2 separate regions of the Homo sapiens genome follow, and region 1 is linked to region 2. Evidence: fine-mapped expression QTL. A gene starts in region 2. The other region holds a variant in brackets. All regions are shown on one strand. Distances are between the middles of the regions. Region 1 has its middle 27 kb from the start of GOLPH3. Region 2 holds the start of GOLPH3 (golgi phosphoprotein 3).

Region 1 (5,523 bases), 27 kb before region 2:
GGAGAGCCCTGGCCGGGAAAGGAGCTGGGTTCTGCGTGGCAGTTAGGTGAGATGTAAAAGCGACATCTCAATGAAACATATGAAATAACAGAAGTAGTTTATGACTTACAGATCCCAGAGGGAAGCGGGTGACTGCCTCACACACAGGGCTAATGGAAGGAGGGTGCTATCTTGGGACATGTGCGCTCCATCAACAAGTGGGGAGCAATAGACAGACAGAGAAACCTGTGGGTTTGGGCTCCAGGATGTTCCTCAGGTGAGTTTCCTGCAGGGAGTTCTACCTGGCAGGTTAACAGCAAGCAGGTGGCAGATCTCCGGAGTCACAATGGGACTGCAGCATATGTACAAAGTGCAGTGCGGGGATCAGTGGGACCAATGAAGTGGGTTGTATCCTGTTGTCCCTGGGAGGGAGTGGTCACCAGGTAGTGGTTGCATAAGGCAGACATCTGGATCCATTGCATTGAGGAACTGGGCAGAGGCAGAAAATGGGAAACTGGCCGGGCGCAGTGGCTCACGCCTGTAATCCCAGCACTTTGGGAAGCCGAGGCGGGCAGATCACGAGGTCAGGAGATCGAGGCCATCCTGGCTAACACGGTGAAACCCTGTCTCTACTAAAAAATACAAAAAAAGTTAGCCGGGCATGGTGGTGGGCGCCTGTAGTACCAGCTACTTGGGAGGCTGAGGCAGGAGAATGGCATGAACCCGGGAGGCAGAGCTTGTAGTGACCTGAGATCAGGCCACTGCACTCCAGCCTGGGTGACAGAACGAGCCTCTGTCTCAAAAAAAAAAAAGAAAATGGGAAACTGTGTCAAGGGTGACTAAACCTTGCCTCTGGTATGGGGAAGTCCACTTGTGTTCAAAATGAATGCAAAGTAAAATTATAGGAATTCACTACAAAGCTCCTTTCTCATGCCACGTCTTAGTATGGTTTAAGAGGATCTCCCCTTAAAGCCTATATGGGACGCTAGAAAGAAGTGGGAAAACCCGGAAATGACTGAAAACATCCTGAATTGACAGTTTCACCCAAATTGACTAAAATTAAGTTTTCATACAAAAGCAGAGTGAAGGCTTTAGATAGAAATTAAAGGCTGGGTGCGGTGGCTCATGCCTATAATCCCAGCACTTTAGGAGGCCGAGGCGGGTGGATCACTTGAGGTTGGGAGTTCGAGACCAACCTGGCCAACATGGTGAAACCCCATCTCTACTAAAAATACAAAAATTAGCTGAGCATGGTGTAGTGTGCCTGTAGTCTCAACTGCTCTGGAGGCTGAGGTGGGAGAATTGCTTGAACCCAGGAGGCGGAGGCTGCAAAGCCGAGATCTTGCCATTGCACTCCAGCCTGGGTGACAGAGCCAGACTCTATCTCAAAAAAAGAAAAATAAATAAATAAAGTCTAATTATAGACACACAAGATTATGTTTTTGCACACCTAACTTTGTATTCTGGATAATAAACTGGCAGGCTTTACTTAGTCATACAAGCTGAAATGTGGTTGGAAAACCATAAATTATACCATGAAATGTTCATTATATAAGAGGTTAAAAAATTCAGATTAGGATTTCTTCCCTAGTTCTATTTGGACCATGTGTGGACTTGGTGCAATGCTGGGTGGATATTTCCCTAAAGTATCATCAGTATTTCTAAACACACATTTCCACCCAACAACTGATCTCATCTACTGGAATGATTTCTCTTGAACTAACATTGGTGTTCATGAAATAAAACAAAAAGTCTTAGTCATAAGTGTAGCTGCTCTTTGGAGGGCAAAATCAAATGGTTGGGAGCAAATAAAAATTAAATTTTAGGCCGGGCATGATTTTGAATAATTCCAAACGTAAAGAAAAGTTGCAAAAATAATAGAGAACTCTCATATAGCCATGATTCAGATTAACCAAATTTTTTTTTTTTTTTTTTTTGAGATGGAGTCTCGCTCTGTCGCCCAGGCTGGAGTGCAGTGGCACAATCTCCGCTCACTGCAAGCTCTGCCTCAAGGGTTCACACCACTCTCTCACCTCAGCCTCCCGAATAGCTGGGACTACAGGTGCTCGCCACCACGCCTGGCTAACTTTGTTTTTGTATTTTTAGTAGAGACGGGGTTTCACCATGTTAGCCAGGATGGTCTCAATCTCCTGACCTCGTGATCTACCTGCATTGACCTCCTAAAGTGCTGGGATTACAGGCATGAGCCACCGCGCCCAGTCCAGATTAACCAACTTTTTTACATTTTGCCACATTTGTTTAATTATTCTCTCTTCTTCCCTCCCTCTGTATTTATTTTTTCCAAACCATTTGAGGTTATAAAGATCATGCCTTTATTATACTCTTAATACTTCAATGTGTAGTTCCTAAGAACAAATATAGTTTCTTACATAATCCAAATACAATTATCAAATCAGAAAATTTAACCTTGATACGTACTTTCACCTACTCTATAATCCATATTCCAATTTTGTCAATTATACCAATAAAGTTCTTTACAGCATCCCCCCAGTCCAAGTTTCAACCAAGGATCACATATATGCCTGAAGGGGTCATGTTTCTCTAATCTTCTTTAATCTGGAATGGTTCTTCAGAATTTCTTTCTCTTTCATGACATTGATATATTTAAAGAACACAAATCGGTTGTTTTATAGAATGTTCTTCAGTTGGGCTTGCCTGGTGTTTCCTCGTGACTTAATTCAGGTTTTTGGTCCCCTGCCAAACTATGAAAAAAGTGATGTTATATTCTTTTCAGGGTACCTGGAGGCACAGTGTGTCAATCTGTCCCTGGGTTAATTTTAGTCACCTGATCCCAGTATTGTCCAGTTTCTTCACTGATAAGTTACTATTTTTCTTTTGCAACTAATAAGTAATCTGTGGAGAGCCACGTTAGGACTGACTAAATATCCTGTCTTTCATCAGACTTTATCTCCCTAGATTTAGCAATCAATGCTATTTCTTGCCCAATTTTTTGCTTTGATGATAGCAAAACAGTGATTTTTCAACTCCATCCCTCCCTCCACATGTATCAATCTAATGTACATCTCACTATAAGGAAAGCCCTCCCTTACTACCTCCATCTATTTATTTACCTACTTATCAGCTGCCTGAATTGATGATTAATTTTTTTTTTTTTTTTT[TG/G]AGACGGAGTCTCGCTCTGTTGCCAGGCTGGAGTGCAGTGGCGCGTTCTCGGCTCAGTGCAACCTCTGCCTCCTGGGTTCAAGCGATTCTTCTGCCTCAGCCTCCGAAGTAGCTGGGATTACAGGCATGTGTCACCACGCCCGGCTAATTTTTTTGTATTTTTTTTAGCAGAGATGGGATTTCACGGTGCTGGTCAGGTTAGTCTTGAACTCCTGACCTCGTGATCCACCCGCCTCGGCCTCCCAAAGTGCTGGGATTACAGGTGTGAGTCACCGCGCCTGGCCTGATGATTAATGTTTTATTCAATAAGTTGTAATCCTTTACTGTCCTGATTTATTTTTAGCTCAAAATTATCCCAGACTTGGCCAGCGGGCTCTCCTTCTCCTTCAAACTAGCTCTTGTCCTTTTGACATGTCCCGATATTTTCCTTCCCTTCCCCTTCCTTCTCCTCCCCTCCCCTCCCCTTCCCTCCTTCCCCCCTCCCAACTCCACTCCCCTCCCCTCCCCTCCCTCCCTCCCTCCCTTCCTTGCTTCTTCCTTCCTTCCTTCTCACTTTCTTACTTTCTGGCATATCAGAATGTTCCTGTGTTCCTGGCTAACCTTGTGCTTTTCCTGCCCCAGCCCCGTATCCAGCCATTCTTCCAAGGAGTCCCAATTTTTTTTAAAGATAGAATAGGACTTAGAAAGACATGGGCACACCTCTTGCATTTTAAATGAGGAACTCATTGACCCCCAAAAAACATTGCTCATGATTGAATTGTTGGTATTCTGTCAGGTTAAGATTGTATTTTTCATTTGTTCCAAAATAAAGTAGAAGTATCCCTTGCCATTTCTTCTGAATATAAAAGCAATATATAATCACTATGAAAAATTCAGAAAATAAAAGCTAAGAACATATTAAAAATCACTTGTTGTTCTATCACTTAGAGTTAACCACCTTGAGATATTAATGGTGATGGTCATCATTAGGCAACTGTAATACTTCCCAGTATGAATGCACCAAAAATAATATATTTCACCAAAATACAATTGTTGGATATTCCCAGTTTCTCTGTGTGTGTGTGTGTGTGTGTGTGTGTGTGTGTGTGTGTGTATTTCTTCTGGGTAAAGTCCCAGAAATGTAATTGCTGGGTTAAAAATGTATGCATATTTATAAGCAAAGAAAATGTGCTCAACATTATTAATCATCAAGGAAATGAAAATTAAAACCACAATGAGACAGTGCCTTCATGTTTCCATGAAACATGCTCATAACACTCCACATATTTTATATATTTACACAAATATGTAAAACATGTTTAGCCAGCAATACCAGTTGTCGGCAAGAATGGAGAGCAACGGCTGGGCGCGGTGGCTCACACCTGTAATCCCAGCACTTTGGGAGGCCAAGGCGGGCGGATCACCTGAGGTCAGGAGTTCGAGACCAGCCTGGCCAAAACGGTGAAACCCTATCTCTACTAAATATACAAAAATTAGCCGGGCCTGGTGGCGGGTGCCTGTAATCCCAGCTACTTGGGAGGCTGAGGAAGGAGAATTGCTTGAACCTAGGAGGCAGAGGTTGCAGTGAGCCGAGATCGTGCCCCTGCACTCCAGCCTGGCGACAGAGTGAGACTCCTTCTCAAAAAAAAAAAAAAAAAAAAAAAAGAATGGCGAGCAACTAAAACTCTCTATACCACTGGTAGAATTGTAAGTCCTAATAACCACCTGTAAACACACACACACACACACACACGCACATAACTGAGCTACTTCCATGGAAATAATTTACCTGGGGTAGGAGAAAAACAAAAGTGATAATTGTGGAGTGTTATGAGCATGTTTCATGGAAGGGGACAGGGAGGGAAGTAAAGGATGGTAATAAGTTTCAGAAATGAAAGATGGAGGGACCTCCCTGCTTCCATCACGCCACTTTGTTACTCTCCCTACTTTACTCCTGATGAAATAGCACAGTGGAGAGACCACGGGGGCTGGACACTGGTACTTCATCTTGTCTATTTCAGTCATTTAAATCCCATCAGCCAAAGAACTGATCTCTTCAATCTCATCTTTCTAGATCGTAATTTCATATCATCCCTGTCTTAAGGTTCAACTCTTAGTTCAAATTCTAATAGCCTTTATAGGCTTATTTTTCTATTGCAAACCAAAAACATTCTTTTATTTTTGAAGTTAGGCAATCTGAAAGATGCCTGTCAATGAACACACAAACCACCATTGAAAAGAAACTTTTTGTCTGGGCGTGGTGGCTCACGCCTGTAATCCTAGTATTTTGGGAGGCTGAGGCGGGTGGATTGCCTGAGCTCAGGAGTTCAAAACCAGCCTGGCCAACATGGTGAAACCCCCGTGTCTACTAAAAATACAAAAAACATTAGCCGGGCATGGTAGCGCATGCTTGTAGTCCCAGCT
Region 2 (5,000 bases):
AAAAAGTAACACTCATTGTTGTAATTAGGAATATTCTCATTCCTAAAATTCCTTCTTTTTTCCTTCCTAAAATATCCTTTCTTCCTCTTCCTGTTTTTAAAATATCTCCTTCCTTCCTCCCTCACTTCTTCCCCAGCTGCCCTCCACCCCCACCCATCATGATGGCTGGGGGTGGAGGGCAGCTGGGGAGGAAAAAAGCTGCATAGACTTTCATGACCTGAGAAGTGCCACACAGTCATGTTGGCCACATTCTATTCATTTCAAGAGAGTCACTAAGTCTGGCCCACACTCAGGGGGAGGGAAATTAGGCTTCACATTTTGAGGGGAGGAGTATCAGAGGATTTGTTGGCATTAAAACCTTCAGGAGAGAAAGGAGAACAACTGGGTGAACAGGGGCAGAGCTGGGAGGGAGATTTTCACTACACATATCTTTGTACTCTTTGAACTACATACTTGACTATATTAGTCAAGTAATTTTTTTTTTTTTTTGAGACGGAGTCTCGCTCTGTCACCCAGGCTGGAGTGCAGTGGCGCAATCTCTGCTCACTGCAAGCTCCGCCTCCGGGGTTCACGCCATTCTCCTGCCTCAGCCTCCCGAGTAGCTGGGACTACAGGGGCCCGCCACCACGCCCGGCTAATTTTTTGTATTTTTAGTAGAGACGGGGTTTCACCGTGTTAGCCAGGATGGTCTCGATCTCCTGACCTCCTGATCCGTCCGCCTTGGCCTTCCAAAGTGCTAGGATTACAGGCGTGAGCCAACGCGCCCAGCCAATTTTTTTTTTTTTTTTTTGAGACAGGGTCTTGCTCTGTCTCTCAGGCTGGTGTGCAGTGGCACGATCACCCTCATGGCAGCCTCAAATTCTGGGCTCAAGCGGTTCTCCTGCCTCAGCCTCCCGAAGACCTGGGACTACAGATGTGGGCCACTACTCCTGATTAACTTTTTTCACATAATAAATTAATTACATTTATTTTACAAAGAAATATTTCAAGCTACAACATTTGGTAAAATCAGAAAAGATGAAGAAAAAAGGTCCAAAGAGGGTGTGGGCTGGCGCGGTGGCTCACGCCTGTAATCCCAGCACTTTGGGAGGCCAAGGCCGGCGGATCACGAGGTCAGGTGATCGAGACCATCCTGGCTAACACGGTGAAACCCCGTCTCCACTAAAAATACAAAAAATTAGCCAGGCGTGGTGGCGGGCGCCTGTAGTCCAGCTACTCAGGAGGCTGAGGCAGGAGAATGGCGTGAACCCGGGAGGCAGAGCTTGCAGTGAGCCGAGATTGTGCCACTGCACCCCAGCCTGGGCAACAGAGCAAGACTCCGTCTCAAAAAAAAAAAAAAAAAAAAAAAAAAGAGGGTGTGAATGGGAGAAATTGGTTGAGGTGAAATCGACCTTCACCAAGACAGGTGGGAAAAAGGGAAGGTCTACTTGGTGTGCCCCCTGGACCCTCTCTTCCCTTCATTTAGCACTGTCACTTTCCAGGGCATGGGATGGTAGGCAGCAGCAGTTCTGGATAATGGATTTGTGGAAGAGAAGAATCCATCTAAAGCACTCTTTAGCCACAGCCCATGATCACTTTTTTTAAAAAATTTTTATTTTTTGCTTTGCTGTTGTTCCACTCTGTCCATACATTGTTTAATACAGGATGGCACACAATACCATTCCTGGTTAAATGTTTCACTTAACAAGCGCCACCCTCTACTCCTCCAACTCCTGTCTCAGGTTTGACAGCTATTTTTTTAACCTAATTTGCGCACGCCAAGAGGATTTCACCTAGTAACTACACGGAGAGACATCCGATGCGTACAAAGACGTGGCATGAAACGCTGCAGGTTTATTGTCTCTATAAAAAGATCGTTAAGGTCGAGCGTGCTAACGTGTGCGGTACTAACTGTACTCACTACGCCCTGGTCACTTTATAGCACAAGTCCGAGGCAAGGAAAGAAGTTTTACAAACAAAACTGGTCAACTGTTCTATCTTCTTACTCCTGGAAAACAATAAAGGTCCACTTTCAAACCATTTGGACGCACTTGCTCCTTCTAAAGGGTTAGGGAGTCCCGGCAGATAGCGTACCCCTCCCCGCCCAGCAGCAGAGAGCAAAGTCCTTCCTGCCGATCCTGCAGACCCCGGAGTCCAAATGGGACCCCGTCCACACGACCGCGGAGTCGCCTCCGAAGACGGCGGTGTCTGGGGCGTGGAGGGCACGGCTGGAGGCTGAGTGGGGTCCACCTTCGCGTGGCCCAGGCTCTTCCATTCACGGGGGGCCCCGCCAGGTTCAGGCTCCAGCCCTGGGTAGTGAAGGGGAAACGGGGAACGGAAGGAGGGAGGGCACGTCACGGGAGCAGGACTGCAGGACCGCGGGTCAGGGGGCGCAGGAACGCCAAAGAAAAGACAAGCACCGAGGGCCGGGAAGGGTGTAGGCTGCAGTGGCAGCGGATCCCCGGCCGCCGCTTCCGGCGCCTCCCGGCCCAGCTCTCCCGCGCCGACTCTGCCACATCCTCCGGTGACGTCAGCCGGGGCCGCCATATTGGAAAGGCGCCGCCGCCGCCTCCGCCTTGGAGCTCGGGGTGTTTCGGGGACTGCGGCCACAGGCAGGAAGGCGCTCCTCTCCTGCCCCGCCGACGCCCGGCCAGCCCGCTTCGCCCTGACCTGTTTCCTCATGACTGCCCCCGGCCCTGCTGCCGACGGACGTCGCCCCGGCGTCCGGATTTAACACGGAAACCCGGATCGGAGGCCGCGCGGGGAGGAGGAGGGCGACCCGGTCGGTCCTGCGACCCTCTCGGCCCGGCTCGGCGCCTCGGCGGGAGCCATGACCTCGCTGACCCAGCGCAGCTCCGGCCTGGTGCAGCGGCGCACCGAGGCCTCCCGCAACGCCGCCGACAAGGAGCGGGCGGCGGGCGGCGGCGCCGGCAGCAGCGAGGACGACGCGCAGAGCCGCCGCGACGAGCAGGACGACGACGACAAGGGCGACTCCAAGGAAACGCGGCTGACCCTGATGGAGGAAGTGCTCCTGCTGGGCCTCAAGGACCGCGAGGTGCGGGCGCGGCGGGCTGGGCGGGGGGCGGCGGCGCGGGGCCCGGGCGCCAGGTGAGCTCCAGGTAGGTGCCAGGTGAGCGCCCGAGGCTTCCGGCCCGCGCACCTGCCCTCGCTCCGAAGTCCGCGCCTGGTGGCGCCCAGCTGACGCCGAGCGGTGTCGGAGTTGGTTGACCCCCTGGCGCGGCTGGTGCTTTCTGGATCCTCCCCGTAGAGATGGCTTGGATTTTTCCTTACCCCTTTCACAGTCGCTCCTTTCATTTCGACACCCTGGCAGTTTGTATTTCTTCGTCGCCTTTTTTCCGCGTTTTTAACCCGTGTAGACCCCAGGGTGCAAATCCAACCCGGAGACTGCCCGGGAAACTAACAGCTGGAGCCACCAGCGCCACGAACTCTTTGGGTTTTTGCAGGCTTTAGGACCTGGGAGGGGTGCCCGGATCTGCTTGCTGGGGATGTTTTTTTTTTCTTCTTCTTCAGTTAAAGCTTACTGTTGGGAATTACGAAAAACGTAGGCGAAGTGGTAATAGAGGGAAAAGCTCTTTTACTGAGTAAAGTTAAGTTAAGTTTCTCATGAAACCTCCTGGTAAATGACTTTCTAGGTGAACTTACATTAGGTGAGAGATTATTTTTAGTATCGCTTTTATATTTTATCAGTTGATGAATCTCAAAGTCTTGCCGTCTTAAGAAAGGGCTTTTTCATCGAGTGCTTGAAATGTAGGTTTGTGAGTTGATCAGAGGCCTCAAAGCTTCAGGTGGGTTGAAGTTGCAATAGATAATTCTTTGTATTCTGACTTTGAAAGCGTTTATTTTCACTTCAGTGTCCAAAATTTTCACACACAGAAAAGTTGAAAAAGTGATAGATACATATGCATATATACTCTTTCTAGATTCTATGACGTTTTGCTGTATTTGTTATATTTGCCTACAAAAATGATTATTTATTTATGTGGAGACGGAGTTTCGCTCTTGTTGCCCAGGCTGGAGTGCAATGCCGCGATCTCGGCTTACCGAAATCTCCGCCTCCCGGGTTCAAGCGATTCTCCTGCCTCAGCCTCCTGAGGCAGGCATGCGCCACCATGCCCGGCTAATTTTGTGTTTTTGTTTTGTTTTGTTTTTGAGACGGAGCCTCAGTTTGTCGCCCAGGCTGGAGTGCAGTGGCGCGATCTCCACTCACTGCAAACTCCGCCTCCCGGGTTCAAGCGATTTTCCTGCCTCAGCCTCCCGAGTAGCCGGGACTACAGACGTGCGCCGCCATGCCCAGCTAATTTTCATACCTTTAGTAGAGACGGGGTTTCACCATGTTGGCCAGGATGGTCTCGATCTCTTGACCTAGTGATCCGCCTGCCTCGGCCTCCCAAAGTGCTGAAATTACAAGCTTGAGCCACCGCGCCCAGGCCTGATTTTAAGAAAGTTTTCCAAATTCAGGAAGGTGGGCAAAAAAAAAAAAAAAGTCTTACAAAACAACGTAATCTTTCTTGGTCACTGAAACTTACTAGATATAGGCGAGTTTTATATGGACCGTTTATGGACCTTTCTTATTTAGAAATCTAATGAACTAACGGTTAGCTTGATAGATACGTCTGGGGCATTTGCCATATCTTGGTTTCCCATTTCTCAGGTTTTAATAACAGTAACCTTGAAAAAAGTTGATGTTCCTCTGGCTGTGAAAGGGCTGCTGTACCTGTTTAATTATTGAGTTGTGATGATAAAGCAGGCTGTATGTGCAGTTCCTTGTTCTTTGGATGAAAAAGTAAACTAGGGGTATAGCGTCCTAGTAATGTAATTTTTAGAAAATATTCAACTTTAGGTTTCAAAATTGGAAATCTTGATTATAAACATTTGTCTTTTTTTTTTTCTTTTTTTAGACGGAATCTCGCTCTGTCGCCCAGGCCTGGAGTGCAGTGGCGCCATCTGGGCTCACTGCAACCTCCCCCTCCCGGGTTCAAGCGATTCTCCTGCCTCAGCCT

The links. PIP is the estimated chance that this variant, and not a neighbour inherited with it, causes the effect. A credible set is the group of variants that fine-mapping cannot tell apart.
Region 1: its variant is the best candidate, but not a certain one, in a credible set for the expression of GOLPH3 in whole blood (INTERVAL, PIP 0.54).

The regions. Positions count from the first base shown.
Region 1 is chr5:32,198,707-32,204,229 of GRCh38, reverse strand. No RefSeq gene overlaps it. Among named protein-coding and RNA genes, the nearest start is that of GOLPH3, 27 kb to the right of the region's middle. The variant TG/G (reference allele first, on the strand shown) is at 3,120.
Region 2 is chr5:32,171,844-32,176,843 of GRCh38, reverse strand. It overlaps GOLPH3 (golgi phosphoprotein 3), which reads left to right and starts at 2,525. Exons shown (of 4, transcript NM_022130.4): 1 at 2,525-3,034. The coding sequence starts at 2,810. RefSeq lists a silencer at 2,632-3,241.